Linked DNA regions of Homo sapiens. The protein of the gene in region 3 interacts with the protein of the main gene of each other region in a biochemical or structural test. Each region holds a gene or a part of one and is shown on either strand. Other genes may lie near its edges. The genes, in order: DCX, NDEL1, PAFAH1B1 and NUDC.

The links.
Region 1: the proteins of PAFAH1B1 (region 3) and DCX form a complex in vitro, tested with the Homo sapiens proteins (2 studies listed by BioGRID).
Region 2: the proteins of PAFAH1B1 (region 3) and NDEL1 form a complex in vitro, tested with the Homo sapiens proteins (3 studies listed by BioGRID).
Region 4: the proteins of PAFAH1B1 (region 3) and NUDC form a complex in vitro, tested with the Homo sapiens proteins (3 studies listed by BioGRID).

Annotation. Positions count from the first base shown.
Region 1 is NC_000023.11:111,402,188-111,409,213, forward strand, and holds part of DCX (neuronal migration protein doublecortin), read right to left. Parts: intron 1-7,026. UniProt on the Homo sapiens protein: Microtubule-associated protein required for initial steps of neuronal dispersion and cortex lamination during cerebral cortex development. May act by competing with the putative neuronal protein kinase DCLK1 in binding to a target protein.
Region 2 is NC_000017.11:8,445,868-8,452,893, forward strand, and holds part of NDEL1 (nuclear distribution protein nudE-like 1), read left to right. Parts: intron 1-886; coding exon 887-1,035; intron 1,036-2,682; coding exon 2,683-2,819; intron 2,820-4,912; coding exon 4,913-5,086; intron 5,087-7,026. UniProt on the Homo sapiens protein: Required for organization of the cellular microtubule array and microtubule anchoring at the centrosome. May regulate microtubule organization at least in part by targeting the microtubule severing protein KATNA1 to the centrosome.
Region 3 is NC_000017.11:2,666,630-2,673,655, reverse strand, and holds part of PAFAH1B1 (platelet-activating factor acetylhydrolase IB subunit beta), read right to left. Parts: intron 6,665-7,026; coding exon 6,458-6,664; intron 3,494-6,457; coding exon 3,325-3,493; intron 1,002-3,324; coding exon 899-1,001; intron 1-898. UniProt on the Homo sapiens protein: Regulatory subunit (beta subunit) of the cytosolic type I platelet-activating factor (PAF) acetylhydrolase (PAF-AH (I)), an enzyme that catalyzes the hydrolyze of the acetyl group at the sn-2 position of PAF and its analogs and participates in PAF inactivation.
Region 4 is NC_000001.11:26,938,728-26,945,753, forward strand, and holds part of NUDC (nuclear migration protein nudC), read left to right. Parts: intron 1-2,729; coding exon 2,730-2,933; intron 2,934-3,025; coding exon 3,026-3,091; intron 3,092-3,932; coding exon 3,933-4,049; intron 4,050-4,143; coding exon 4,144-4,338; intron 4,339-6,662; coding exon 6,663-6,746; intron 6,747-6,840; coding exon 6,841-6,959; intron 6,960-7,026. UniProt on the Homo sapiens protein: Plays a role in neurogenesis and neuronal migration. Necessary for correct formation of mitotic spindles and chromosome separation during mitosis. Necessary for cytokinesis and cell proliferation.

The DNA.
Region 1 (7,026 bases), on a different chromosome or scaffold from region 3:
GAGAATACATTATACAGCCTGATTTATGGATTGGAAGGATCTAGTGTAATTTTCACATTTACCTTGGGCTAGAGGAAATGACTAATATCGCAAAAGAAATGCAGGGATCAGAGGCAAGAGGAGGGGACTGGACACCTGGGACTATGAGCTGAAGAAAATAGGAAGAGAGATAGGCTCAGCCTGGGGAAGAGAATACTGGAAAAGGTTGAATTCGTTGAGTAAAACACATTAGCCTCAAGGTATCTAGAAGTTCATTGAGAGGTTGAGCTGCAGAAACAGTGTGATTTAATCAGGCTTAAGTCATCGGTAATAACCCTAAATAAATAAATAAACCCTAGCCAGTGCACAGAAAGCATTAAACACAATTATAGTCTGATGGCTCTCCTTTGGTCTCAGCAGGAGAACTGCATTCAGAAACACCAGGTTGATAATTCACTCCCTTTGCAAATATTTATTGCTTTGCCATAGCACCAAATCCTTTAAGACATGTTAATGAATAAATTTCTCAGTAATGCTAAGAGAAGTTTCAGTCAAAATCTCTAGTGTACCTTTGAGGACATTTATGTGTGTGTGTATGTGTGTGTGTGTGTGCGTGGTGTGTGTGTGTGTGTGTGTGTGTGTGTGTGTGTGTGTGCGGAGGGGGAGGGTAAGTGGCATCCAACATAAGCAAAGTGACTTCCAAAGCTGCCCTCAGTCCCAGAGTTCTATCTTGACAGGGGGACAAAGGGATGGTTTTAAGTGAGGATAGGCACCCTTACCCACTTGGTGCATACATGGACACCCAGGATGAGATGGTCAATACCTCAGCCAAGAGAAGCTCTGATTTCTTTGACTCCCTTGCTGGTTAATTCAACCCAACCCAAGTAATTATAGGCTGGGGTCTTTAATTTTTGACTTAAAAGGATGAAGGAAGGGGCCCTTTTAGTGTCTCCATATATTCACAGCCAATAACCCCCATAACCCTAGAAATGGTCTCTTGACTTAGCAGTTCACCAGATTCACTGGCACCTTGCAGGAGGTCACTGCCTTTGAGTCAGATGTTTTCCATAACTTGTCATGTACTTTAAAACTGTCAGACAAATGGTGGTGTGGAAATGTGTGAAGCTATATATTTATGATTTCACTCATCCAGTCTCCTCTGGAGAGTCAGCTGTGTAGCCCTATTAGGACTTTGGACTTTTTTGCTCCCATCTCTTAAACCTCTTAAGCCTCTGGAGTATGAGTATGATTAACCGTCTCCAGATGAAAATGAACATGATGACTGACAGCTATAGTATCATATAGCACCCAAGAACTTTCCAGAGGGCCCAGCCTCAGCCAAATCTATGTTGAGCACCTTCCAGTGGTACATTTTAGTCACTCCACTCTCTCGTTGGGCTGAATATGGAGTAATGGAAAAAGCGCAGCTGATGTGATGTCAGTCAGGATGGGGTCCCCAACACTTCCTAGTTGTGCACTCTAACCTCCCTTGGCTTCAGTTTCTTCTTTGCAAAGCAAGGGTGATAATAAGAATACCTATCTTGTGGGGTTGTTGTGGGGCACAAATCAGATGATGGATAAAAAGTGTTCAACCCATGGCCAGGTGCGACGGCTCATGCCTGTCATCCTGACACTTTGGGAGGCTGAGGCAGGTGGATCGCTTGAGATCAGAAGTTCAAGAGCAGCCTGGACAACATGGTGAAACCCCATCTCTACTAAAAATACAAAAATTAGCTGGGCGTGGTGGCACATGCCTATAATCCCAGCTACTAGGGAGGCTGAGGAAGGAGAATCGCTTGAACCTGGGAGGCAGAGGGTGCAGTGAGCTGAGATCGCACCACTGCACTCTACCCTGGGTGACGGAGAGAGTGAGATTCCGTCTTAAAATAAAATAAAATAAAATAAAATAAAATAAAATAAAATAAAATGCTGATCCCAGAGCCTGGAACATAGTAAGCACTTGATAAATTTCTGTTATTATTAAGCCCCTAATCTTACGGAATAGAAGCGAGAACAAGAAGGAAAGAGCAAAGAGGAAAAGAGGAAAAAATTGCTGAGAGAAAGAGACTAAAAAGAGGAATAGAAGCTGAAGAGGAAAAAAAAGAGAAAGTATCAAGGGCAACCATCTAGGAACTGAGCTGTGATTATGATATGACATGAGCACTGCTGGGGGCCTGTGATTCAAGGATAAGATTTCCTGCTGGTTGGAAGGAGGCTTCCAGTTGTGGCAAATGCCAAATGTAGGAGATTTATGCTAACACCCAGTAAAGCTGCTGCTGCCTCTGCAGAGGCCCGCTGAGAGCAGGATATTTATCGTCGTCAAGAGTGATGACTTAGGAGTCACACAGACCTGGATTCAAATCTCAACTAGGCACTTAAAAGCTGTGTGACCTCAGGGAAATCACTTAATGTCTCTGAGTCTCAGCTTTGCCTTCTCTAAAGCAAAGATAATGCACTAGGTGACACCTGAGTCCCTTCTAGGTCCTAGAGTCTATAGGGAGGAATCTTCTCTTTTCCTTCTCAAACAGGCTTCAGAAAACAAAGCTGTTAGGATAATTAAATGTTAAGAAAATAGCTGCCCACCTCCAAGGACTCTTCACTTCTGCTAGAAAGACATCAAATGCTCTTCTTTGCTAGACTAAGACTTCCTTGTCCTGATTTTGCCAGCATTTTCAATGTCTGCTGCCAGAGCTCAGTGCCTCCTGCACTTCCTGCTGCCTGGCACTTGGAGCTGGATGAGGTGTGTCGCACCTTTACACAGTTGGGTTCCCATCCTGCCACAGCTTCCAAGGGCTATTTCCTACCAGCTGGGGGCCTAGAGGGAAAGCTGGCTTCACAGCCAAGCAGGGTGCAAATTCGCTGGAACTAAAAACCTGCTTTAGGGTGAGGGGATAAGGAATGAAATCATGGAAGCACAGCTGAAAGGGCAGAAATGAAACAAGCTGTGGGCTGGAGATGATCTAATGTCTACCTCCCTTCTCTTTAAGAAGGCTGCATTTTCAAAAGCATTTTATATATATTTGTATCTTCTCAGTGCAAAAGCAAGCTTCTGCCTGGGTTTTCTCCTCTTCTCCAGGGCTTCCTGACTCAAGAAGGAATATATTAAATGACACTTTACTGTATTATATTAAAATATTAAATGACATTTGATTATCATATCTATTAGCAATGCATCCCTCCCAGGTATCTTAAAATTCTTGTGTTTGACAATGTACTTGCTTTAGTAGTTAGAGAATAAATTAGTGAGAAGGTGGATTCATCTCAATGAAACATATGAGCTATGGTAAAAGAACTGGATCATAGCCAGTGTGACTACACAGCTCGGATTTTCTAAGACTGTTCCAATTGTAAATATTCTGTCCCATGGTCTGTGTAATAACTCTTGAACTTGTCTCAATTTGGGTTCAGAAAAGCTGGCTAGTCATAAATGATATCCCCAAGGTTGATCTGGATACTTACATACAAGAAAATGGGGAAAGAATTGGACCAGATATAAAGGGAAAGAGAAAGATTCTAAAAAAAATAAATAAAATAAAAAAATAATAAAAAAAACAAAGACATGACAAAAGGAAAACCCACCAGTGGATTTTATTCATTGACCTCCTTGGGATACAGCTAATGAGGACCATATCCTACATGGCTTCACTAAGACCCTCGGTGTACCCAAGGACTGTGGGAAAACTGACATCAATAACCTTTGATCCAAAATGCTTCCCTTGATACTTTCTGTATCTAGCAGAAAACCGTAGACAAGAGGCACTAGACAAAGGAGTGTCACAAGGCCAGAGTGATTATTAACCAATTATTTTTAAATTTCATTTATTTTTAGGCTAAAAATGTAATAATGTGGCCATTTGAAAACACAGTGTGTTCTATGCTCTATTATTCCTTTAAGATGTAAAAAGAAAAAAATTAAAACAGATTTCTGCACGTCTCAAAACTCCTACCACTTTAGTTAGGTGAATGGAACCATCAAGATCACCCAGTCTAATACTTCCCAAGTCTAAGTGCTCATAAAAGTCATGTGAGGAGATTTGTAAAAACACAAACACTGGGGCCCTAGCCCTGGGGATTCTGATTCAATAGATCTTGGGTGTGGCCCAGGAATGTAATATTTTTCTAAAGCTCTGAAAGATTTTGAAAGGCAGCCGGGTTTGGAAACCACTGACCATTACAATCCCTTACTAACATAATCATTGTCATAATCATTATTATTATTATTTCCATTATTAGTATTTTCACATCATTAATAATAATAGTACCTGTAGCTATAATTTTACCTTGTCAATATGTTTCCATATCTATTATCTAAGTTTAACCTTACAACCACCCTAATGGATAGAGAAGGCAGGTGTTACTAGTCCCATTTTACAGTTAAAAATATTATTCACAAGAGATACACAAATGTGGTGGTCTACATATACATGAAATATCATCCTTCAACAAAAAGGAAAGAAGTGCCAATACATGGAACAACATAGATAAAATTTGAAAACATTATTCTAAGTCAAAGAAGCACAAAAGACCACATAGTATTTGATTCAATTTATATGAAGTGCGCAGAATAGGCAAATATGTGGAGACAGAAAGTAGATTAACCATTGTCTAGAGCTGAAGAGATTGGAGAAAATATGCAGTGACAACTAATTGGAATAGGGTTTCTTTCTGAGGAAATGAAAATGGTCCAAAATTATGTTATGATGATGGTTGCACCACTTGATAAATCTTCTAAAAATCATTGTACACTTGAATGGGTAAATTTCATGTTATGCAAATTATACCTTAATACAGTTGTTTGTTTTTTTAAAGAGTTATTTTAAAAATAATTAACATGAGTCACATTAATGATAAGAACAAACCTATGATCATGTAGCTAACCAGCTATAAACTAGGATAACTCAAACAATAATAACTACCTTTTATTAAGCACTACTGTGTGCCAGGCAGAGTAATATGCACTTTATATCTACTGTCTTATTTAATCCTCAAAGCCATTATTCCCACTTTACAGATGACAAAATGAGGCTTAGGGAATCTAGATGGTTTCCTCAAGGTCTTACAGGCTAGCACTGACAGATCCTGAATTTCAACCAAATCTGAGTCCAAAGACTTCTGTTTTCATTATAATCTGCTGCCTCTAAGACTAGAACCCAATGACCCTGATATTTCACACCGGGAAGTCTGTCCTCCATTCCCAGATGGGCAGTTCTAAAATATAAAATAGGAGAGAAAAAGACACATTGTCTTCATCCTCCTCATCCCAGTGCCCTTTCCCATTTGGCTCTGTGGCAGTGGGAAAATTGATCACATTTCTTAACACTATCCCAGACATAGCCCTGAATTTTCTTGACTGAATAGGCAGTACTAAGGACTAAATGGGTATTGAGGTCCACTGTGCCTTGTAGTTGTACATGACATGTGAACAAATGCAACTGAGCCCTATTCACACTTCACATAGTCCAGGAATTCACCAAGAAGTACTACTGCACCCAGGAGTGACAGATAAGAGGAGTTCAACCTAATATGACTCAAAGGTAATCAAGGGAATAGAAAGCTGCAGTCTTTTCAAAGTTACATTTATTGCCTACCTATGTTGAACAGAGATTATCACCAGCCCCTCGTGATACATCAATACGCACACACACACACACACACACACACACACACACACATATCTAGGGAGAAAAATCAACATGTAAAAAATGGATTTTGGGGAAATTTTGTGCATAACGCCTCTCTTATATCAGAGACAAGAATATTCTAATACTTGGTCTGAATACAATGTCACTTGGTTCAGTACTCTTTCCTAATGTCTATTGTGGTCTTTAGAATATCACAGTTCATGGAAATGAGGACATATTGGGTGATACAGGGTGCTTTGTCTGTGAAAGTTGTTACAGAGAAATCCCTGAAATTTGACTGAGATGTGGATTTTACAGTGACAAAAGACAGACACCCTAACAATTACTCTGTTGGACAGCTCCCTCGACCTAGCTTCAAACCCTTCAAAGTTGCCGTGACTCTCCTTTATTTTAAGACATGCTCCAGGATGGCCAGTCCTTTGATGGTCAGGAAGGGCCTAGGATTAACCACTGCCTGTCCATTGAACACATGATGAAATAATCTAAGCTTCCTGGGCATTGGTTTTCAAGGTCAGCTATGTAGAAAGATCTCGGCCAGGCACAGTGGCTCACACCTGTAATCCCAACACTTTGGGAGGCCAAGGCGGGTGGATCCTGAGGTCGGGAGTTCAAGGCCAGCCTGACTAACATGGAGAAACCCCACCTCTACTAAAAATACAAAATTAGCCAGGCATGGTGGCACATGCCTGTAATCTCAGCTACTTGGGAGGCTGAGGCAGGAGGCAGAGGTTGTGGTGAGCCAAGATCATGCCATTGCACTCCAGCCTGGGCAACAAGAGCGAAACTCTGTGAAAGAAAGAAAGGAAGAAAGAAAGAAAGAAAAGAGAAAGAAAGAAAGAAAGAAAGAAAGAAAGAAAGAAAGAAAGAAAGAAAGAAAGAAAGAAAGGAAGGAAGTCGAACTTGAACCTTGAGACTCAGATGCAGCAACAATATGGACACTGTCTTTTATAAGTAACTGGTCCCAATCACTTTGCCTGACAACTTGGGCAACAGCAGCTATTTGAGAGAACTAGTGTCTTGTACAAAGGAAACCCTCATTCTCCTTTGTCTAGGAACACAAGAAACTTAGAAGCAGTGAAGCAGAGGCAGGTTTTTCCCACATCAAATTCTTTAAGGTGCTATTTCTCCTTCCTTGTTAGTTATTTCATAATTTGGTTACTCTAGAGATCTGCCTGCTTTAAACTCACCTTTGCTCAGGGAATGAAAGGAGTGAGGAGAGAGGGCTGGATAATGGGGGAGGGGCTTGAGGAGGAACACATTAATTATCACCACTCCTTGAAGCTGTTCTTTAAAGCACTGTATTAGGTCAAATTGATCACATGTGTTATATCCACCAATTTTAAAATAGGGAAGCATCCTCAGTATAATTGATTTGATAATATAGAATGTTAAAAATGTGACCCAA
Region 2 (7,026 bases), 5.8 Mb from region 3:
ATTGCAGCAGTAGACGCTGGGGTCTAATGTGTTGAGTTTTATTAAAATGAGAAATATGTTTTTCAGGTGCTTAAGAGCAGCTGGCGACAAAAAATAGTTTGAAAAAAACGCTTAAAGTGAATTTTTGAATAAAATGTTTTCTTTCACGGAACCAGGGGAAAAGGTGGTTTAGAGTTTAGGAGTTCACTTAGAAACTTTGTAGTTGTCACTTTTCTAGCTATAATGTTCCTAGCTATATTATATTATAGTTCCTATAATTTTCAAAAGCTGCCTGATTATTTGTTTTGACAGATAGGTTGCCTCATTCTGCAGTATGTTTACAATTATATTGATAGGGAATATGCATTTATTTCATTATTGTTCATAGCCCTTTCAGTTTTGGAGTTTAGTTAGGGTTAAAAATTTCCCTTCTAAAAAGGAATTTTCAGGAGCAAAAGGATTCACCCCTTTCTCTGCCCTTTACCATCTACTGTAGCCACATGCTTGAGGGTATTTAGTGTCTGGGGAGTGGGTGGGTTCTGGGAAGGTTGGATGGGCAGGTGAAAGGTAGGGAATGTGAACTCTGTGCTTACCCTGGGCCGCATTTAGCCTGAAAATCCAGAGGTTTCCTTAACAAGTTTGCGGATTTTGAGGCAAGGATTTTTTATATTAGTTCTTTTCAGAGAGATTGTTATTGGGTTTCTTTCTGAGAGGAGAATGGTTGACAAAATTTAACATGAGTTTAGGCACTTAGAATGAATGTGTCATTTAGTTGTTTTTAAAGTAATTGTTACAAGAGTGTGGGTAAATTCCTTGGGTTCCCCCCCACCCTTTTAACTTGAGTTACCTCTTTAGTAAAGAGAACTGTATATTAATGACATGTACTTTCCTATACTGATGCCCTCAGGAGAAGCTAGAGCATCAATATGCACAGAGCTATAAGCAGGTCTCAGTGTTAGAAGATGATTTAAGTCAGACTCGGGCCATTAAGGAGCAGTTGCATAAGTATGTGAGAGAGCTGGAGCAGGCCAACGACGACCTGGAGCGAGCCAAAAGGTAAACGAATGACTGCATTTTGTTAGAAAAAAACCACCTTGGTAATTAGTGATTAAAATCTTTATTAGGCTCTTCCCCTAGATCTTAGTCCCAGAACATTTCCTGTTGGTGTTTCATGTCACCTGTAACTCATCGGACGGAAGGGAACCCCAAATCCTCATCTCCCAGATAACGCCCTTCAAAGCTTTCTCTTTCAATTTTTCTTTTTTCCTTCTTTCATATACTGTGGTTGATCCTATTGGTTTTGTTTTGTTTTTTGAGACAGGGTCTCACATTGTCGCCCAGTCTGGAGTGCAGTGGCATGATCTCGGCTCACTGCAACCTCTGCCTCCCAGATTCAAGCGATTCTTGTGCCTCAGCCTTCCAAGTAGCTGGGATTATAGGCATGTGCCACCACACCCAGCTAATTTTTGTATTTTTAGTAGAGACGGGGTTTTGCCATGTTGGCCAGGCTGGTCTTGAATTCCTGCCATCAAGTGATCTGCCCACCTTGGCCTCCCAAAGTGCTGGGATTATAGGCATGAGCCACTGCACCCAGCCTAGGTTTTGTGTATTTATTTATTTTTTAAACTGTCTCATGCATTCCCCCATCTTCCCTCTGTGCTCTTAACACTTCCATACTTCCTGTAGGTCCTCATATCTTATACCTGGATTCTGTAGTTATCCTCTAGCTGATATATCTTTATATTTCTGTTCCTTTTTATTCTCTTTTAATACTGACTGATGAATTTTCTTAAAATGTTGATTTCAGTTCAAATTTCTGAACAACGTGCAGTGGCTTGCTATCACTGTTGCCAAACTTTTATGCATGTGTAATTAGTTGTTTCTTAACCATTCCAAACTTAATTCCTATTACTTTATAATTGTTTCCTGGTATTTCCTTCCTTAATATTTATCCAGTGAGTCTTAAGTGACTGACATGATGCTAAACTTACAGATGCGGAGCTAGTCTGGTCACTACCCTTGGGGGTGACAGATATGTACATTCACTATGTTAATACCCTAGTAAAAAAAAGTGGGCAAGCTGCTGCTCCAGGGCATAGAGGAGGCAGCAGCCAGATTGGTTGCGGGGAGGTGGGCGGGGGGGGGGCAGTGGGGGAACCAATCAGAGGCTGAAGTGAAGTTACAAAGTGACACCCTATGCAAATGTCTGAGTGGTTGCAGAAAGCAAAGGGAATAGCTTCTGGTCCTTTTCTTACTTAGGTGTGGAAAGTTCCGGTTTTCCTTTTGATTTAGTTCTAGGAAGTCAGTGTGAATTGGCCTTAGGTTCCCTGACTTGGGACTTAATGTTTTAAACAAACTCTTACATATATTACAAGTTTTGAAAAGTTTTCTTTCTGAAAATGTGTAAACTTGATTGTATTGTGTTCAAAACACAGTGGAGATATAAATAGTGTAACAAATAGCCTTTCTGTAGGGAACATTAAGGAATAGATGGGAATTTAAAAGAATGTATTGTATATATTGCCCAACTGATAGAGACACTACGTGCCAGCAGTGGTCAGGAAGGGGCAAGATCATCTTCTTTGATTGGGGCCAGGCTGGCTAGGTCAGGAAATGTCACGAGATAAACTGACAGTTTCCTTTTGTACTATCTGTTTGCACATGTTATTTATTTAATTCATGTACTCTAATTTTTCTTTTTAGGGCAACAATAGTTTCACTGGAAGACTTTGAACAAAGGCTAAACCAGGCCATTGAACGAAATGCATTTTTAGAAAGTGAACTTGATGAAAAGGAATCTTTGTTGGTCTCTGTACAGAGGTTAAAGGATGAAGCAAGAGGTAAAATTTATAACTTAAAGAATACAGTTGACCCTTGAACAACATGGGTTTGAATTGTGTGGGCCCACTTATACTCTGATTTTTTTTCAACCAAATGTGGATTGAAAATACAGTATTCACGGCATTCAAAACCCTGTATATGGAGGGCTGACTTTTCATATATACGGGCTGACTGTGGGACTTCAGTATGCGCCAATTTTGGTGTAGGTGGGGGTCCTGGAACCAATCCCCATGTATACTGAGGGACAACTGTATTTATCCTCCCTTACCTTACTGTCCCTATGCCAGAAGAAGCTTAGAGTCAACTTTTTTTGGAGACGAAGTCTCGTACTTTCACCCAGGCTGGAGTGCAATGGCACAATCTCAGCTCACTGCAAATTCCGCCTCCTGGGTTCAAACAATTCTCCTGCCTCAGCCTCTCGAGTAGCTGGGATTACAGGCGCCCGCCACCACACCCAGCTGATTTTTGTATTTTTAGTAGAGACGGGATTTCACCATATTGGCCAGGCTGATCTCGAACTCCTGACCTCGTGATCCGGCCGCCTTGGCCTCCCAAAATGCTGGGATTACAGACGTGAGCCACCGCGCCTGGCCCCATCCAGCTAATTAAGAAAACATTTTTTTTGTGGAGACAGTCTCAGTATGTTGGCCAGGCTGGTTTTGAACCCTTGGCCTTAAATGGTCCTTCTGGTTCTGTCTCCCAAAATGTTGGGATTATGGGTGTGAGCCACTGTGCCTGGCTTCTTAATCATTTTAAAGTGTACAGTCCAGTAGTGTTAAGTATAGTCAAATTGTTGTGTAAACAAATTTTTAGAACTTTTTCATCTTGCAAAACTGAAACTATACCTATTGAATAGTGACTACCCATTTTCCCTTCCCTTCAGCCCCTGGCAACCACAGTTCTATTTTCTATGAGTTCAGCTACTTTAGATACCTCATATAAGGGAGATTATACAGTATTTGTGACTGGTTTATTGCATTTAGCATAATGTCCTCAAGGTTTATCCATGTGTAGTATGTGACAAAATTTCCTTCTTTTTTAAGGCTGAATGATACTCCATTGTATGTATTCATTTTCTTTATCTGTTCATCTGTGGATGGACATCGAGTTGCTCCCATCTCTTGCTATTGCGAATGATACCGCTGTGAACATGGGTGTCCAAATATCTCTTTGAGATCCTGTTTTGAATTCTTTTGGATACATACCCAAAAGGGGGATGACTTTGTTCCTTTTTTAACACAAGCAAATATTCTGTAAGTTAAATTGCATAATTGGAAAAGATAACATTAATTTTGGGTTAAAAACTCGACATTGGCTGGGTGTGGCGGCTCACGCCTGTAATTCTAGCACTTTGGGAGGCTGAGGCGGGTGGATCATTTGAGGTTAGGAGTTCGAGACCAGCCTGACCAACATGGTGAAACCCCATCTCTACTAAAAATTCAAAAAAAAAAATTAGCTGGGTGTGGTGGCGGGCACCTGTAATCCCAGCTACTTGGGAGGCTGAGGCAGGAGAATCGCTTGAACCCAGGAGGTGGAGGTTGCAGTGAGCCGAGATTGCGTCACTGCACTCTAGCCTGGGCGACAGAGTGAGACTCCGTCTCAAAAAAAAAAAAAAACGCTCAATATTTGAAAGCATGAGAAAAATTTAAACCGTTCTGAATACTTCTTTTCTAAAAGTAAATATTTCATAGTGATAATAGTTAATGCCAGCCCATTTAAAATTACAAAAATGCACTTAGTTGATTTTGCAATAACCCCAAAACTACATCATTTGAAAATAAAAGCAAATAAGTTGGTGAAGAATATTTACTTTTGTGTGAATTGTACTGTGGACTCTGCACTGTTTCTTTTTGCATATAAGCATAAGTAACTTCTCTCAGGTTATAGCATTTTTAAATTCTAAAAGATCATTTAGACAGTAGTTTTGCCATTTTTATTCCCCTAGAAATGAAAGTTATACTTAAATAGGAAATTCATTTTTGAGAAATAGTAATTTAGGAAGAAGACCTTTATGACATTTTAGATGTCACTTTGCTTGATATATTTGCTCCCTCTAGTGAGTATTCCTGCCCTTGTTTGCAATATTTTACAGATTTAAGGCAAGAACTAGCAGTTCGGGAAAGACAACAGGAAGTAACTAGAAAGTCGGCTCCTAGCTCTCCAACTCTAGACTGTGAAAAGATGGACTCCGCCGTCCAAGCATCACTTTCTTTGCCAGCTACCCCTGTTGGCAAAGGAACGGAGAACACTTTTCCTTCACCGAAAGGTTTGTAATGTCTTTTCTTTTTGAGGCGATGTGTTAGATGATCAGCTTACGGGGGTTTGTTGCTGAAGGCGGTTGCTAAGGTTTAAAGAGTAATTTTAGTTTAAAAGTTGGTGAAGTCTAGTGCTATGTGAAATAGAAGAAGGAATTGTTTTCCTAGGCCACTAATATATAGGAAACAGTGAAATGATGGTTACATTTAAGATGAGATTTTTAAAAGTTAAAGGTTTTTAAGGAAAGTTTATTTTTTGATGATAGCAATAGATTTTGTGATTACAGCCGTATGTTTAGGTAGAAAATTTTAAAAACACAGAAAAAGAAAATAAAAATCATGTTATCTTACCACTTACAGGCACCCACCATTAACATTTTGAGTTTTTTTTTCTATTGTGTGCTTGTGTGTGTTTGTGCACATCTCTTTGTCACATGCAAATTTGGGGATCATATTTAAACACAGTTTTATTTCTTCCTTTTGCCACTTTCCATATCATGGGAGACCTGAGGCCTTTCTACATAGAATGTACAGAGAATCATTAAGTTATCTTTCAGACTCATGTAAGACCGGCTTGGATGGACATGCCCATTCTGTTACATGCTTCAGGAGCTGCCATTTTCAAAAGCATTGTTCGGAGTAATTGATGATTGGCACATACAGAATACTCACATTGCCATGAACCAGTGTGTTTTTTTAAAATCCGGATAAGCAGAAAAACCACCTAGTAGCCACTAGATAGAACCTTAAAATGGAATCTTAAAGCTCTCAATTGAGATTTGTTTAGATTTTGCAGCTCGTAGTTCATATTTCTGCTACTCTCATCCCCCCTTGCTTTTTTTTTCCACCCTATATTGAAGCTGTCATCCCACCCTTTTTAAAATATAGGGTTTTATCTTTTAGAATGCTATGTGGGCAACTAGTACAGTGAGCTCTCTCTGTCTGTGCTACTCAATAGTCACCAGCCCATGTGGCTATTTAAATTTATATTAAAATGAAATAAAATATAAAATTCAGTTTCTTTGTCACATTAACCACATTTCAAGTGCTCAGTAACCCTTGAGTAGGTAATTCAACTTGTCTTTGCCTTGTTACGAGATGATATCAGATAAGGTATGTGAAGGTGCTGTATGGTTGTAAGGTGTTACTAATTGCGCTAGGTTTACTGCTGAGGACAAAGGGCAGGCAATAGATTATTAGCAGTCATCAGGAGCCCTCACGGTCAGTTTTTCAGAAGAGCTGCTTGTATATTTGAAGATTTCACAATTACACCTGAGGACTAACAAAGTTTTACTTTTATGTTACTGATTAGAATTATGCAGATCTGAAAATCCTTTAATTGAAGACGAATCAGAATAGTGAAAAGCCTCAGGTGCGGTGACACCCACAGGTGGTGCACATTTTTTTTTAATAGCCCGTTAGAGTTTTCATTCAGGGACTTGGGGAGTCAAAAGGACATGGAGCCTGCTGTGGCACGGCATGAGGTGTGCCAACCCTATGGCAGTAATATTTGCTTAATAGATATGTTTTTAGGCTGGAACCAATAGCATGAATTTTCACTGGCTAACCTAAAAGCTGCTGTGTACTAGATCACTGCAATTTCATTACAAGAAAGCACAGAGTTGTGAGCAGCAGCAGGTGGTCAGAGAAATCGGTAAGATCTTAGAGCTGATCTTTCTGAAGTGGTCTGTCTTTAATTGTATTTTACCTTTTACAATGTTTGTTTCTCTTTCTTTCTTTCTTTCTCTTTCTTTCTTTTTCTTTCTTCCTTTCTTTCTTTTCTTTTCTTTTTCTTCTCTTTTTTTTTTTTTTTTTTGACAGAGTTTTGCTTTTTTTGCCCAGGCTAGAGTGCAATGGTGCGATCTTGGCTCATTGCAACTTCCGCCTCCTGGGTTCAAGTGATTCTCCTGCCTTGGCCTCCCAAGTAGCTGGGATTACAGGTGTGTGCCAC
Region 3 (7,026 bases):
TTTTGTTTTTTTTTTTTGAGACGGAGTCTCGCTCTGTCGCCCAGGCTGGAGTGCAGTGGCGCGATCTCGGCTCACTGCAGGCTCCACCTCCCAGGTTCACGCCATTCTCCTGCCTCAGCCTCCCGAGTAGCTGGGACTACAGGCGCCCGCCACCACGCCCGGCTAATTTTTTGTATTTTTAGTAGAGACGGGGTTTCATCGTGTTAGCCAGGACGGTCTCGATCTCCTGACCTCATGATCCGCCCGCCTCTGCCTCCCAAAGTGCTGGGATTACAGGCGTGAGCCACCGCGCCCGGCCAAAGATTATTTACACTTTAATTTAAACCCACAGAGAGATCACCTAAAAGAAGACCACAGAGGAAATAAGCCATTACACAGAAATGCTTCTCAAGGACATAGAGTCTCTCCTTACAATGTCTCTGTGCTCCTTTTTGGGAGACATGTACAGATCAAACTTAGTTTTAAAGTATATTTAATATGACTGTCATAATGATCATTCCGGGTTAAAGTCGAAGTGACTGCAACACCAGAACACAATTTTGTTTTTTATAAATATGTCTTTAAGCTGATGCCTTTTCTTTTTTTTTGAGACGGAGTCTCACTCTTGTTGCCCAGGCTAGAGTGCAATGGCACGATCTCGGCTCACTGCAACCTCCACCTCCCAGGTTCAAGTGATTCTCCTGTCTCAGCCTCCCAAGTAGCTGGGAATACAGGTGTGCGCCACCACACCCGGCTAATTTTTGTATTTTTAGTAGAGATGGGGTTTCATCATGTTGGCCAGGCTGGTCTTCAATTCCTGACCAGGTGATCTGCCCACCTTGGCCTCCCAAAGCGCTGGGATGACAGGTGTGAGCCACTGCACCTGGCCGCTGATGCCTTTTCAACTAAACTTACTTACCCAGTTTGCACTTCCCACATTTTTATAGTTTTATCCCTTGAGGCAGACACTATATGATCTCCATTGGGCATGATGGCTACTGAAGAAACATTGTGGTCATGGCCTAAAACACATAACAGCAATATATTATGAAGTAATATACCACCAAGAGCAATGAAACATCAATTGACCATGGGATTTTACCATGGGGTTTCACTATGTCAAAGCAAGTTCTAAATACACTGGATTTTATACAAATTGGATAAGAAACCTGGATTTACACGATAAAGTTAAAAAAATCAGTAAAACAACAACCCACAAGGAAATAGTCAACTCCATTTAGGATTAAATTTCAACCTGTACAAATGGTTTAAAAACAAAAGGCATCACGATTATCAACATTTGAATATATTCATATACTTACCTCAGTGAGTCTGAATGTTTACATATGAACGCTAGGGAAACATTTTTTTTTTTTTTTTTTTTTTTTTTTGTGAGGCAAGGACTTGCTCTGTTACCCAGGCTAAAGTGCAGTGGTGCAATCATAGCTCACTGTAGCCTTGAACTCCTGGGCTCAAGAGCTCTTCCCGCCTCAGCCTGTCGGGTAGCTGGAACTACACAGGTGTGTACCACCACATCTGGTACCACCACACCCACAACTATTTTATTTTTTGTAGAGACAAGGTCTCCATATTTTGCTCACACTGGTCTCGAACTCCTGTCCTCAAGCAATCCTTCCTGCCTTGGCCTCCAAAAGTGCTGAGATTATAGGTGTGAGCCACTGTGCCTAGCTTCTAGGTTGATATTCTAAGATATAAAAAAGATAAAGCAAATGGATACAAAAAATGGGGAATTGGTTCTCTGTTTAAAATGGTGGGCCAGGCGCAGTGGTTCATGCCTGTAATCCCAGCACTTTGGGAGGCCGAGGCGGGCGGATCACCTGAGGTCAGGAGTTCAAGACCAGCCTGGCCAATATGGTTAAACCCTGTTTCTACTAAAAATAAAAAAGTTAGCCGGGTGTGGTGGTGCTTGCCTGTATTGCCAGCTACTTTGGAGGCTGAGGTGGGAGAATCATTTGAACCTGGGAGGTGGAGGTTGCAGTGAGCAAAGATTGTGCCACTGTACTCCAGCTTGGGTGACAAAGCAAGAGGCCATCTCCAGAAAAAAAAAAAAAAAAAAAAAGGTGGTGTTGGGGGTAAAAAAAAAAAATGCATTAGAAAGAACTCTTTTTAAAGTTACAGCTAGAAGATACAGGCAACTTAAAGAAAAATAAATGATAGACCTTACGTGGCTCACGCCTATAATTCCAGCACTTTGGGAGGCTGAGGCAGATCAGGAGGTCAGGAGTTCGAGACCAGCTTGACCAACATGGTGAAACCCCGTCTCTACTAAAAATACAAAAATTAGACGGGCGTGGTGGCGCGTGCCTATAATCCTAGATACTCAGGAGGCTGAGGCAGGAGAATCACTTAAACCTGGGAGGCGGAGGTTGCAGTGAGCCAAGATTGTGCCACTGCACTCCAGCCTGGGCGACAGAGTGAGACACAGTCTCAAAAAAAAAACAACCAAAAAACAACAACAAAAAAACAGTGTTCATGCGTGGAATTCCTGTAATTATAAACTTCCCCAATGCATTTAATTTGGGACAGAGAAAACACAACCTTCAAATTATGCCCTCTAGGTAAACACAGTTTACTCATGTGTTAACGTGTTCCTTGTACAAAATCCCAACATTCAAATGTCATCATGTATAAAGAAACAACAAAAATCCCTAAGTAATGAGCATCTCCTATGTGGCAGGTACTACACCAAGATGATTTATCTTATGACTTCATCTTATCCTCATGACAACTCTATGACTCTGGTATTATTACCTCTGTTTTGCAGATGAAAGAGGTTTAAATTTTCTAATACCGTAAGTAGACAAGTAGGAATTTGAACCCAGGTGTCTGACTCCAAAGCAAATTACTCTCTTTCCACAAAACATACTGCCTCAGAAAACAGTTCCCACAACAAGACCCGGGAAATAATGAACGAGGGCATGGGGTCTGTGCGCTCAGCTCATTTCACTTAAGTGAGCAAGAGAATCTGGGCTCGTTTTCACTCGACCTACTCTCTCTGGACTTCAGTTTCCCAACTAACAAAAATTAAAACACAAACAAAACCATTTTTAACTCAAATACAGATAAATGACCTGGCAGTTTTTCTTACCAAGAAATACTCATACAAATATTTTATGTAAAGTACTAAAAGATACTTAAAACTTCCTAATAGAAAGCACTCTCAACTACTGTGGCTTATCCCTGGACTATCTACATGGTATGCTCTTCCACCAATACTGACAATTAAGAGGTGAATAAAGGAACACTGTACACTGTTAGAAACAATATTCCTTCTGAAGTACCATGATAGAAATTACTGTTAAAGCACTATCCTCTACCCCTTACCGTGCATGGTTCTGATGCATTCAAAGCCCTGAAAATCCCATAGTTTAATGGTCATATCTGCAGAACAGGAAGCCAGAAGCTTGCCGCTGTGGTCGAATGAAATGTCCTGTACAGAGTCTGTATGTCCTTTAAGAGTTCGTTCAAAATCTCCAGTCTCATAATCCCACACCTGTCAAGTGAACAGAAAATTGGTTAACACCAACTCCATCACTCCTTTCTTGTTTCACATTTGCACTCAGCAGGCCAGTCTGGCACCTTACTGAGTAACTAACCGAACAAGTAACAAAGGATAACTATTTTAGAAATATTGTATCTCATGTATAAATTGGTCTTTTTTTCTACAGGGAAAACTAATGTTGCAATTATTAAAATCTATCTCTAGAACCACATTTATAAGGTTTCTATCACATAACCAACTGTAATAGTGATAAGGTATATAAAGTCACAAGACATAGTCCGCTCCCTGTCTCAGAGCAGGAATGACATGTAAATAAGGAAACTTAAGGGGAAGAAATAAGAGGAAAGAAAGAGAAAGAGATGGAAAGGAAAGGGAAAGAAAGGGGAAAGGGAAGGGGAAGGGAAGGAGCTTCAGAGGGCTATAGCAGGCATTTGTATGTAGAATATTTGAGGAACAATGGATGAATACTCGATCCTACTAGACCATCAGAACTCAGACATCTAAAGGGCCAAGGAAAGATTTCAGAAGATGTTAACTGTTCACGAATAGCAAATGAACAAGAGCATATGTCATTTTGAGTTAAAAAATGAAATATGGCCGGGCGCAGTGGCTCACGCCTGTAATCCCAGCACTTAGGAAGGCCAAGGCGGGCGGACCACGAGGTCAGTTCGAGACTATCCTGGCTAATATGGTGAAACCCCGTCTCTACTAAAAAACACAAAAAATTAGCCAGGCACAGTGGTGGGCGCCTGTACTCCCGGCTACTCGGGAGGCTGAGGCAGAATTGCTTGAACCTGGGAGGCGGAGGCTGCAGTGAGCCAAGATCATACCACTGCACTCCAGCCTGGGTAACAAGAGTGAAACTCCATCTCAAAAAAAAAAAAAAAATTCTAATTGCTGGCTAAATCACTATTATAGAAAACATTATAGTGAACATTTTTTAATATAAAAAAATTCTGTCCTCATTTTATAATACCTAGGTCAGACAGTAATGGGGAGAAACAATTAGTGGGTCAAAAAGTATAAACTTTTAAAGCCTTCATATACTCTATTAAATTGATATCCCGTAAGACTGTATCATATGTAATGAGAATGACTACTTTATCAAAATCTTATCATCACTGGGAATTCTTATTTAATAGGTAAAATACCTTGACAATTTGACACACATATATATGTATGTGTGTCTCACTCTTGTCGCCCAGGCTGGAGTGCAGTGGCGCGATCTTGGCTCACTGCAAGCTCCGCCTCCCGGGTTCACGCCATTCTCCTGACTCAGCCTCCCGAGTAGCTGGGACTACAGGAGCCCGCCATCACTCCCGGCTAATTTTTTGTATTTTTTAGTAGAGACGGGGTTTCACCATGTTAGCCAGGATGGTCTCGATCTCCTGACCTCATGATCCACCCACCTTGGCCTCCCAAAGTGCTGGGATTACAGGCATGAGCTACCGTGCCCAGTCCAATTTTTTTGTTTTTAAGACAGGGTCTCACTCTTCGCCCAGGCTGGAGTACACTGGCTCAATCATAGCTCACTGCAGCCTCCAACTCCCAGGCTCATGTGATCCTCCCATCTCAGCCTCCTGAGTAGCTAGGACTACAGGCATGCACCACCATACCTGGCTAATTTTAAGTAGAGACGAGGTCTTGCTATGTTGCCCAGGCTGCTCTCTAACTCCTGAGCTCAAGCAGTCCTCCCACCTTGGCCTCCCAAAGTCCTAGGACTATAGGCATGAGCTACCACACCCGGCCCATAATTTCAGTGTTTATTTCTTCTGCTGTTAGTAGTAAGGCCAAACCGTCGTTACTATTTGGTTAGTTGTAACTACCTTTTTGAGACAGTCTCGCTCTGTCGCCCAGGCTGGAGTGCAGTGGAGCGATCTTGGCTAACTGCAACCTGTCTCCTGGGTTCAAGCGAATTTCCTGCCTCAGCCTTCCAAGTAGCTGGGACTACAGGCGCACGCTGCCATGCCCAGCTAATTTTTTTGTATTTTAGTAGAGATGGGGTTTCTCCGTGTTGCTCAGGCTGGTCTTGAACTCCTGAGCTCAGGCAATCCACCCGCCTCGGCCTCCCAAAGTGCTGGGATTACAGGCGTGAGCCACCGTGCCCGGCCGATTGGTTATACTTTTGTAAATGAAACTTAATATCTGTAACTTACTTTGAAATAACCCTTAGGATAGAGGCATCTACCTAAATCTACCTATATTGCAACTATCTTATCTTTCTGTAGGTGGTTTATACAACGGTCATTTTATTGTGTCCGGAACAAAGGCAACTTAAAAACAACTCTTTTCCTAATTAAAAAAGCACAACATTAAAAGGTAATAATATTTTTACTGTGAAAAAAATTTTTTAATGAAATACGTAATTTATAAAATGAAAAGCTTGTATATTCCCACACTCCTGGAAAGCCAATTTTAAATACATCAAGGAAAGCCCAATTTAAATGAATCCTCTACTGAATTCTTTTGCAGTATAGATTCACCCTATCAATTACTAGTTTTGTCAATCAGTATTTCACACATAACCTCCGTTTAAAGGTAAGACACACACTTTTCATTCTCCAAGAACAAAAATTGTTCAAGCACAAGGTGATGTACTGACATCAACTCAGTTAGTGACACCCGACTTTCTCAAATTCACCATCAAACTTACCTGGCAGCATGCCTCTCAGGAGCCACAATGATATTTTATTCCAATTCTGTCTTTTAAGATTTAGAACCAAATCACACGTTTCAGAGTACCTCCTGTCCCTCTTCATAGGCCCTCATTTTCAGGATCTTTTAATTTTCTTCACCCTATTAAGTCTGCTTTTTTTTTTTGAGACAGAGTGTGGCTCTGTCGCCCAGGCTGGAGTGCAGTGGTGCAATCTCGGCTCACTGCAAACTCCGCCTCCCGGGTTCATGCCATTCTCCTGCTTCAGCCTCCCGTTAAGTCTGCTTTTAACAAAAAATTACCTTAATTGTAGCATCCTCTGAAGCAGAGACCATAACACTGAACACAGGATGGAAAATGACTCGAGTGACTGGACTCCTGTGACCACTCAATGCATATTTTTCTGGCGGACGGGGAATCCATTCTTTTGGGTCTCGTTTCTGACCAAGAGGTCCACCTGACGTAAATTCTTCTTTTGCTTCATTTAGCTTTGATTCTAATTCCATAACCTTGAAAAAGAACATGTAGTTACGTACAGATAGATTTCAATAAAAATAGCATGTGACATTTTAAAAAACTGCCTTTATTTTGCAACTATGTATGTAGGATACTTGAAAAAATTTCAGTAATCTCCAAAGCATTTGTCAAATTTAAATGAAAATTATTTATTTTGTACAGCATCAAAATCTAAGTCATGTGAGGAAACTAAAAATTGAGAAAAATTCAGTACAATTGCCTTAACTCTTTAACAAAAAGAAAAATTTCGATTTGTATCTGGTGACAGAGTCCTCTACTAATTAGAGAAGGGCAGTGAATTTGTCTTGGTCCCTCTAAGGCTGCTACTCTTAGTAAGTTCTTTCCAAACCACATT
Region 4 (7,026 bases), on a different chromosome or scaffold from region 3:
GCTTTCCCTGCAGTTCTGCCTTAGAGATGCTTGAAAGAGGGTTTATTGACCACTGATCACATGGCAAGTGCCCTGCAAGGCCTCTAGGGGTATGTGCGTATGTGTGCACATGCACACTGTGTATGGGTTGGCATTGAGTTGAGTGTCCTAAGGGTATGTTCCTGGCCAGAGGTGAAACTTTGACACTTGACTGGTCATGGAGGATGAATTGGTTTGCCAGGTGACCTGAGAATGGGGATGAGACATTCTAGGCAAAGAACAACACATGCCAAGATTGCTTTTATTTATTTTGAGACAGGGTCTCCCTCTGTTACCCAGGCTGGTGGCGCGATCTCTGCTCACTGCAACCTCTGCCTCCCGGGTTCAAGTGATTCCCCCACCTCAGCCTCCCAGGTAGCTGGGACTACTGGCGTGTGCCACCACACCGGGCTCATTTTTGGATTTTTAGTAGAGACAGGGTTTTACCATGTTGGCCAGGGTGGTCAAGAACTCCTGACCTCAGGTGATCTGCCCGCCTCAGCCTCAAGTGATCCACCTGCCTCATCTTCCCAAAGTGCTGGGATTACGGGCATGAGCCACCACACCTGGCCAAGACTGTTTTTAGAGATAATAACTTAGACCAGGCATAATGGCTTACACTTGTAATCCCAGCACTTTGGGAAGATGAGGCAGGTGGATCACTTGACCCAGGAGTTTGAGACCAGCCTGGGCAACATGGCAAAACCTTGTCTCTATAAAAAAATACAAAAATTAGCCAGGCATGGTGGCATGTACTTATAGTCCCAGCCACTGGGGAGGCTGAAGTGGGAGGATCACCTTAGCCCAGGGAGGTCGAATGCATTCCAGCCTGGGTGAGTGAGACCATGCCTCAAAAATAATAATAATAATAACAAGATAGAGGCACAGAGACATGACCTCAGGGTCACGCAGGTAAGAGTAGACCAGGAACTCAAATCTAGGTGTGATTTTGAAGTATGCATGGAAATTGGCCAGGAGGGCTTGTTAAAAATACAGATTGCCTGGCCATACCCCAGAATTTCTGATCCAGTAGATCTGGAGTGGGGCTTAAGATTTAGCGTTTCTAACAGGTTCCAGGTGATGCTGATGCTGCAGGTCAGGGGAACCCTGTGATGTGGACCTCACTAGGCTCTTGATTTGTGCTGTCATACTCAATCCTCATGACGGATAAGGAAACAGGCTTAGAAAGAGTCAAAGTTGTTCACTTGTCTAAGGCCAGGAGCCAAATAATGACAGGTGGCAATAGTATGGGTGGAGGGTTGTCCTTGGGTAGCAGGGAGGCTGGCTAGCACATCCTGGAGTGGAAACCTCCTGGGAAGGTGTAGTGGAGAAAAAGGATTTGAAGTTGATAGCTTGCTTGCTGGAGAGAGGGTGAACAGGCTCTTCCTTCAAGAAAGCTCCCTGGCTTTGACCTGGCGCGGTAGCTCATACCTATAATCCCAGCACTTTGACCGGGCACGGTGGCTCACACCTATAATCCCAGCACTTTGGGAGGCTGAGGCAGGCGGATCACTGGAGGTCAGGAGTTCGAGACCAGCCTGACCAACATGGAGAAACCCCATCTCTACTAAAAATACAAAATTAGCCAGGCGTGGTGGCACATGCCTATAATCCCAGCTACTCGGGAGGCTAAGGAAGGAGAATCACTTGAACCCGGGAGGCGGAGCTTGCAGTGAGCCAAGATCACGCCACTGCACTCCAGCCTGGGCAACAAGAGTGAAACTCCATCTCAAAAAAAAAAATTAAAAAAAAAAGCTCCCTGGCTTTCTGCTAACGTGTCCTTTTTGGGTGTGGTGTCAAGTCTTGCATAGCTGGACTGTGGTCTTGGAGACAGGATGCACTAAGAGTAAGAGTGATTAGTCAGAGGAGTGGGCCTGAGAACTCAGGAAAGGCTTGTGAGGGACTGAGGCTTGAGTTTTTACTTTAAACAGCGCCACTTTTTTTGTTTTGGTTTTTTTGAGACAGAGTCTCGCTTTGTCACCCATGCTGGAGTGCAGTGGCCTGATCTCAGCTCACTGCAACCTCCACCTCCCTAGTTCAAGCAATTCCCCTGCCTCAGCCTCCTGAGTAGCTGGGATTACAGGCGCACGCCACCGCGCCTGGCTAATTTTTTTGTATTGTTAGTAGAGACGGGGTTTCACCATGTTGGCCAGATTAGTCTCCAATTCCTTTATTTATTATTATTATTTTTTTTTGAGATGGAGTCTTGCTCTGTCACCAGGCTGGAGTGCAGTGGCACGATCTCTGCTCACTGCAACCTCTGCCTCCCAGGTTCAAGCGATTCTCCCACCTCAGCTTCTCGAGTAGCTGGGATTACAGGCCCCCGCCACCATGCCCAGCTTTTTTTTTTTTTTTTTTTTTTTTTGTATTTTTGGTAGAGACAGGGTTTCACCATGTTGGCCAGGATGGTCTTGACCTTGTGATCCACCCTCCTCAGCCTCCCAAAGTGCTGGGATTACAGGTGTGAGCCAGCGCGCCCGGCCAAGCATCACTTTTTAAAACAGCCAGTTTATTGAGACAGGTGCTTTGCAGGTATTGTCATTACAACCCTATGAGATAGATGTATTTTCCTCATTTTGCACATGAGGAAACCGAGTTTCTGGGTGCAGTGCTTTGCCCTTGCACCCAGCAGGTAGAGAGTGGGGCTGGACTCCAGGCTGTGGGACACTGTCCCCTGCTCTGATGCCTCATGGCCTTTCTTCCCTCTCCAGCTTATCACACAGACTTTCAGCCACCACAATCAGCTGGCACAGAAGACCCGGCGGGAGAAGAGAGCCCGGCAGGAGGCCGAGCGGCGGGAGAAGGCGGAGCGGGCGGCCAGACTGGCCAAGGAAGCCAAGTCAGAGACCTCAGGGCCCCAGATCAAGGAGCTAACTGATGAAGAGGCAGAGAGGCTGCAGCTAGAGATTGACCAGGTGAAGGGTGGGCTTCCCTTCTCCACCCCTCAGATCCCCCCTGGCACTGAGCAGTGGGGTCCTGTTGCCAACTGCTGTGCTCTTTGCCCCAGAAAAAGGATGCAGAGAATCATGAGGCCCAGCTCAAGAACGGCAGCCTTGACTCCCCAGGGAAGCAGGTGAGATGGACTGCAGGGACTTGGGATGAGCCAGGAGCTTGGAACTTACAGGAAATCTCCTGCCTACTGCTTTCTCTGGAATACCCTTCCTTATCCTATCCCCTCCCCTCCTGGCTTTGGGAATCTTCCCCATACTTTAAGATCACACTCAGAGACATTGAACCAAAGGATCCAGGTTAAAAAAATAAAAACCTGCCAGGCGCAGTGGCTCACACCTGTAATCCCAGCACTTTGGGAGGCCGAGGTGGGTAAATCACGAGGTCTGGAGTTCAAGACCAACTTGGCCAAGATGGTGAAACCCCATCTCTACTAAAAATACAAAAATTAGCCAGGCATGGTGGTGGGCGCCCGTAATCCCAGCTACTCGGGAGGCTGAGGCAGAGAATTGCTTGAACCCGGGAGGCGGAGGTTGCCATGAGCCGAGATCACGCCACTGCACTCCAGCCTGGGCGACAGAGCAAGACTCCGTCCCAAAAAAATAAAATAAAAACCGACTGACCTTAACCTGTTTATGGCAAGAAAACCCAATAGCCAGAGAGGGCAGTGCCTATTACAGGTCCCATCTGAGGTTGGCTGGGTTCTGTGGGCCCAGCCATATCCTTTGTCACATGGTATAATATTAATAGTCTGAGCTCCTCTCAGACTGAGATCAGAACCAAGTTTTACCTGGTTCCCAGTGGACCAAGGCTTGGGGGTCTGCCCCTCTGTGGAGTGGGCAGGGACCAGGTCTGTTTTCTTTTGTGGCTGTATGCCCAGTGCTAGCCCTGGGCTTGGCCCAGTGAGGGTTCAATCTGTGTCTTGTCTGTCAAGTAAGTAGCTGAGTGTCCCTGATTGTAAGCAGGATACTGAGGAAGATGAGGAGGAAGATGAGAAGGACAAAGGAAAACTGAAGCCCAACCTAGGCAACGGGGCAGACCTGCCCAATTACCGCTGGACCCAGACCCTGTCGGAGCTGGACGTGAGTGTCAGGGACCAGAGGTAAAGCTTAGGGGGCCAGCCTGGGGTACCAGCAGCACTTAGTGGCCTCTTCTGACTGCCTCTGCCCTATGCAGCTGGCGGTCCCTTTCTGTGTGAACTTCCGGCTGAAAGGGAAGGACATGGTGGTGGACATCCAGCGGCGGCACCTCCGGGTGGGGCTCAAGGGGCAGCCAGCGATCATTGATGGGGAGCTCTACAATGAAGTGAAGGTGGAGGAGAGCTCGTGGCTCATTGAGGACGGCAAGGTGGTGACTGTGCATCTGGAGAAGGTATGTGAGGCCCAGCCCTTCTAGCCTGGGGTGTTGATGGAAGTAGAAGGGAGGATGTGTGCTTAGTTTACTCAGGAGCCATGCTGGGGGCATTGTGGGATTATCTTAATCCCCATGACAACACTCTTTAAAGTAGATCTGTCTCTATTTTATTTTCTTAAAGACAAGGTCTCACTCTGTTGCCCAGGCTGAAGTGCAGTAACACCTTCTTAGCTCACTGCAGCCTTGAACCCTTGGGCCCAAGCAATTCTCTCGCCTCGTCCTCCTGAGTAGCTAAGACTACAGGTGTACACCACCACGCTCGGCTAATTTTTGTTATTAAATTTTTTTGTAGAGACCGGGGGGTCTCACTATATTTCCCAGGCTGGTCTTGAACTCCTGGCCTCAAGTGATCTTCACACCTTGGCCTCCCAAAGTGCTGAGATTACAGGCTTGAGTCAGGAAAAGAGCTCGTTGATTTACCCAAGCTCCTACCTCTGGGAAGGGGTGGAGTCAGAATTGAAAGTCTTAGTTTCTAAAGCCACTTCTTTTTCACTAGGTTTGTACATGCATTCAATTCATCAAATACTTGAACACCTGCTCTGTGCCTGGTACTGTTCTTGTTCTAAGTGCTGGAAAGAGAACAGTGAACAAAACATAGGAAAATATGTGCCCTCAGGAAGCCTTCATTCTCAACCTCACTGCCTTTACAGAGAGGTAGGACACAGAGATCAGTAAATAAAGGTGGTCTGAAAAGGGCCAAGGGTCTGAGGAGAACTTCCCAGGGCACATAAGACCCTGTAACAGCCTGTCCGACTGGCACTGGCTGCCTTCACTCACTCACCCCTCCATGCCTCTGCACTTGCTTTGTCGCCCAGGCTGGAGTGCAGTGGCGCGATCTCGGCTCACTGCGAGCTCCGCCTCCTGGGTTCATGCCATTCTCCTGCTTCAGCCTCCAGTGTAGCTGGGACTACAGGCGCCCGCCACCATGCCTGTATTTTTTTTTTTGTCTGTTTTGTTTTCTATTTTTTAGTAGAGACAGGGTTTCACCGTGTTAGCCAGGATGGTCTCGATCTCCTGACCTTGTGATCCGCCCACCTCGGCCTCCCAAAGTGCTGGGATTACAGGTGTGAGCCACCATGCCCAGCCCTTTCCCTGCCTTTTAAATTTATTTTTTATTTTTTGAGACAGGGTCTTGTTCTCACCCAGGCTGGAATGCAGTGGCGCAATCACGGCTTACTGCAGCCTTGACCTCCCGGGCTCAAACGACCCTCCCACCTCAGCTTCCTGAGTAACTGCGAGCGCCACCCTACCTGGCTAATTTTTAAATGTTTTTTGTAAAGACAGGGTCTCATGTTGCCCAGGCTGGTCTGAAACTCCTGGGCTCAAGGGATCTTCCTGCCTTGGCTTCCCAAAGTGTTGGGATTACAGGTAGGAGCCACTGCACCTGGCACTTCCCTGCTTAAAAACTTTTTCTGGCTGGGCGTGGTAGCTCATGCCTGTAATCCTAGCGCTTTGGGAGGCTGAGGTGGGCAGATCACGAGGTCAGGAGTTTGAGACCAGCCTGGCCAAGATGGCAAACCCCATCTCTAATAAAAATACAAAAAATTAGCTGGGCATGGTGGTGGGCGCCTGTAATCCCAGCTACTTGGGAGTCTGAGGCAGGAGAATCGCTTGAACCCAGGAGGTGGAGGTTGCAGTGAGCTGACTGCACCACTGCACATGGTGGCTCACACCTGTAATCCCAACACTTTGGGAGACTGAGGCAGGCAGATCATCTGAGGTCAGGAGTTTGAGACCAGCCTGGCCCAATATGGTGAAGCCCCGTCTCTACTAAAAATACAAAAATTAGCCAGGTGTGGTGGTGCATGCCTATAATCCCAGTTACTCGGGAGGCTGAGGCCGGAGAATTGCTTGAACCCGGGAGGCAGAGGTTGCAGTGAGCCGAGATGGTGCCACAGCACTCCAGCCTGGACAAGAAGAACAAGACTCCATCTCAAAAAATATATATATTTATTTTCTTCCCATTTTAAATCTGGAATACTGCTTTGTGTCTTAAGACTCAGCCCGAGTGTCACTTTCAAACTTTTCTCCCTCCACCCTGGATGAATATCTCCCTTTCTGCTTTCTTCTTTCCCTTATCACACTGATTTGTAACTCTTTGCCTCTGTGTCTCCCCTAGCTGCAGGAAGGGCACAGTCTTGTACCTCTGGATCCAGTGTAGGCCTGCAAGGGTCTCAGGTGCAGGATGTGGATGGGAGAGAGTTTGGTTGTGAAAGGGTTAAGGGGTGATTCCTGGTGCACAGAGCAGGCCACCTCCCACCCTCTGGTTGTTCTCTTCACAGATCAATAAGATGGAGTGGTGGAGCCGCTTGGTGTCCAGTGACCCTGAGATCAACACCAAGAAGATTAACCCTGAGAATTCCAAGGTGAGCCCTGGCTGGTTGGGGGAGCTTCAGCAGGAAGGTGAGGGGCCTCGTTGTTTCCAGAGCTTCACCGATTCCTGTCACTGCCTGCCCTCAGCTGTCAGACCTGGACAGTGAGACTCGCAGCATGGTGGAAAAGATGATGTATGACCAGCGACAGAAGTCCATGGGGCTGCCAACTTCAGACGAACAGAAGAAACAGGAGATTCTGAAGAAGTGAGCAATTCAGAGACGGGGTTGGGGGACCGTGGGTGCCTGGGGGCTTAGACTTCGGTGACAGCAG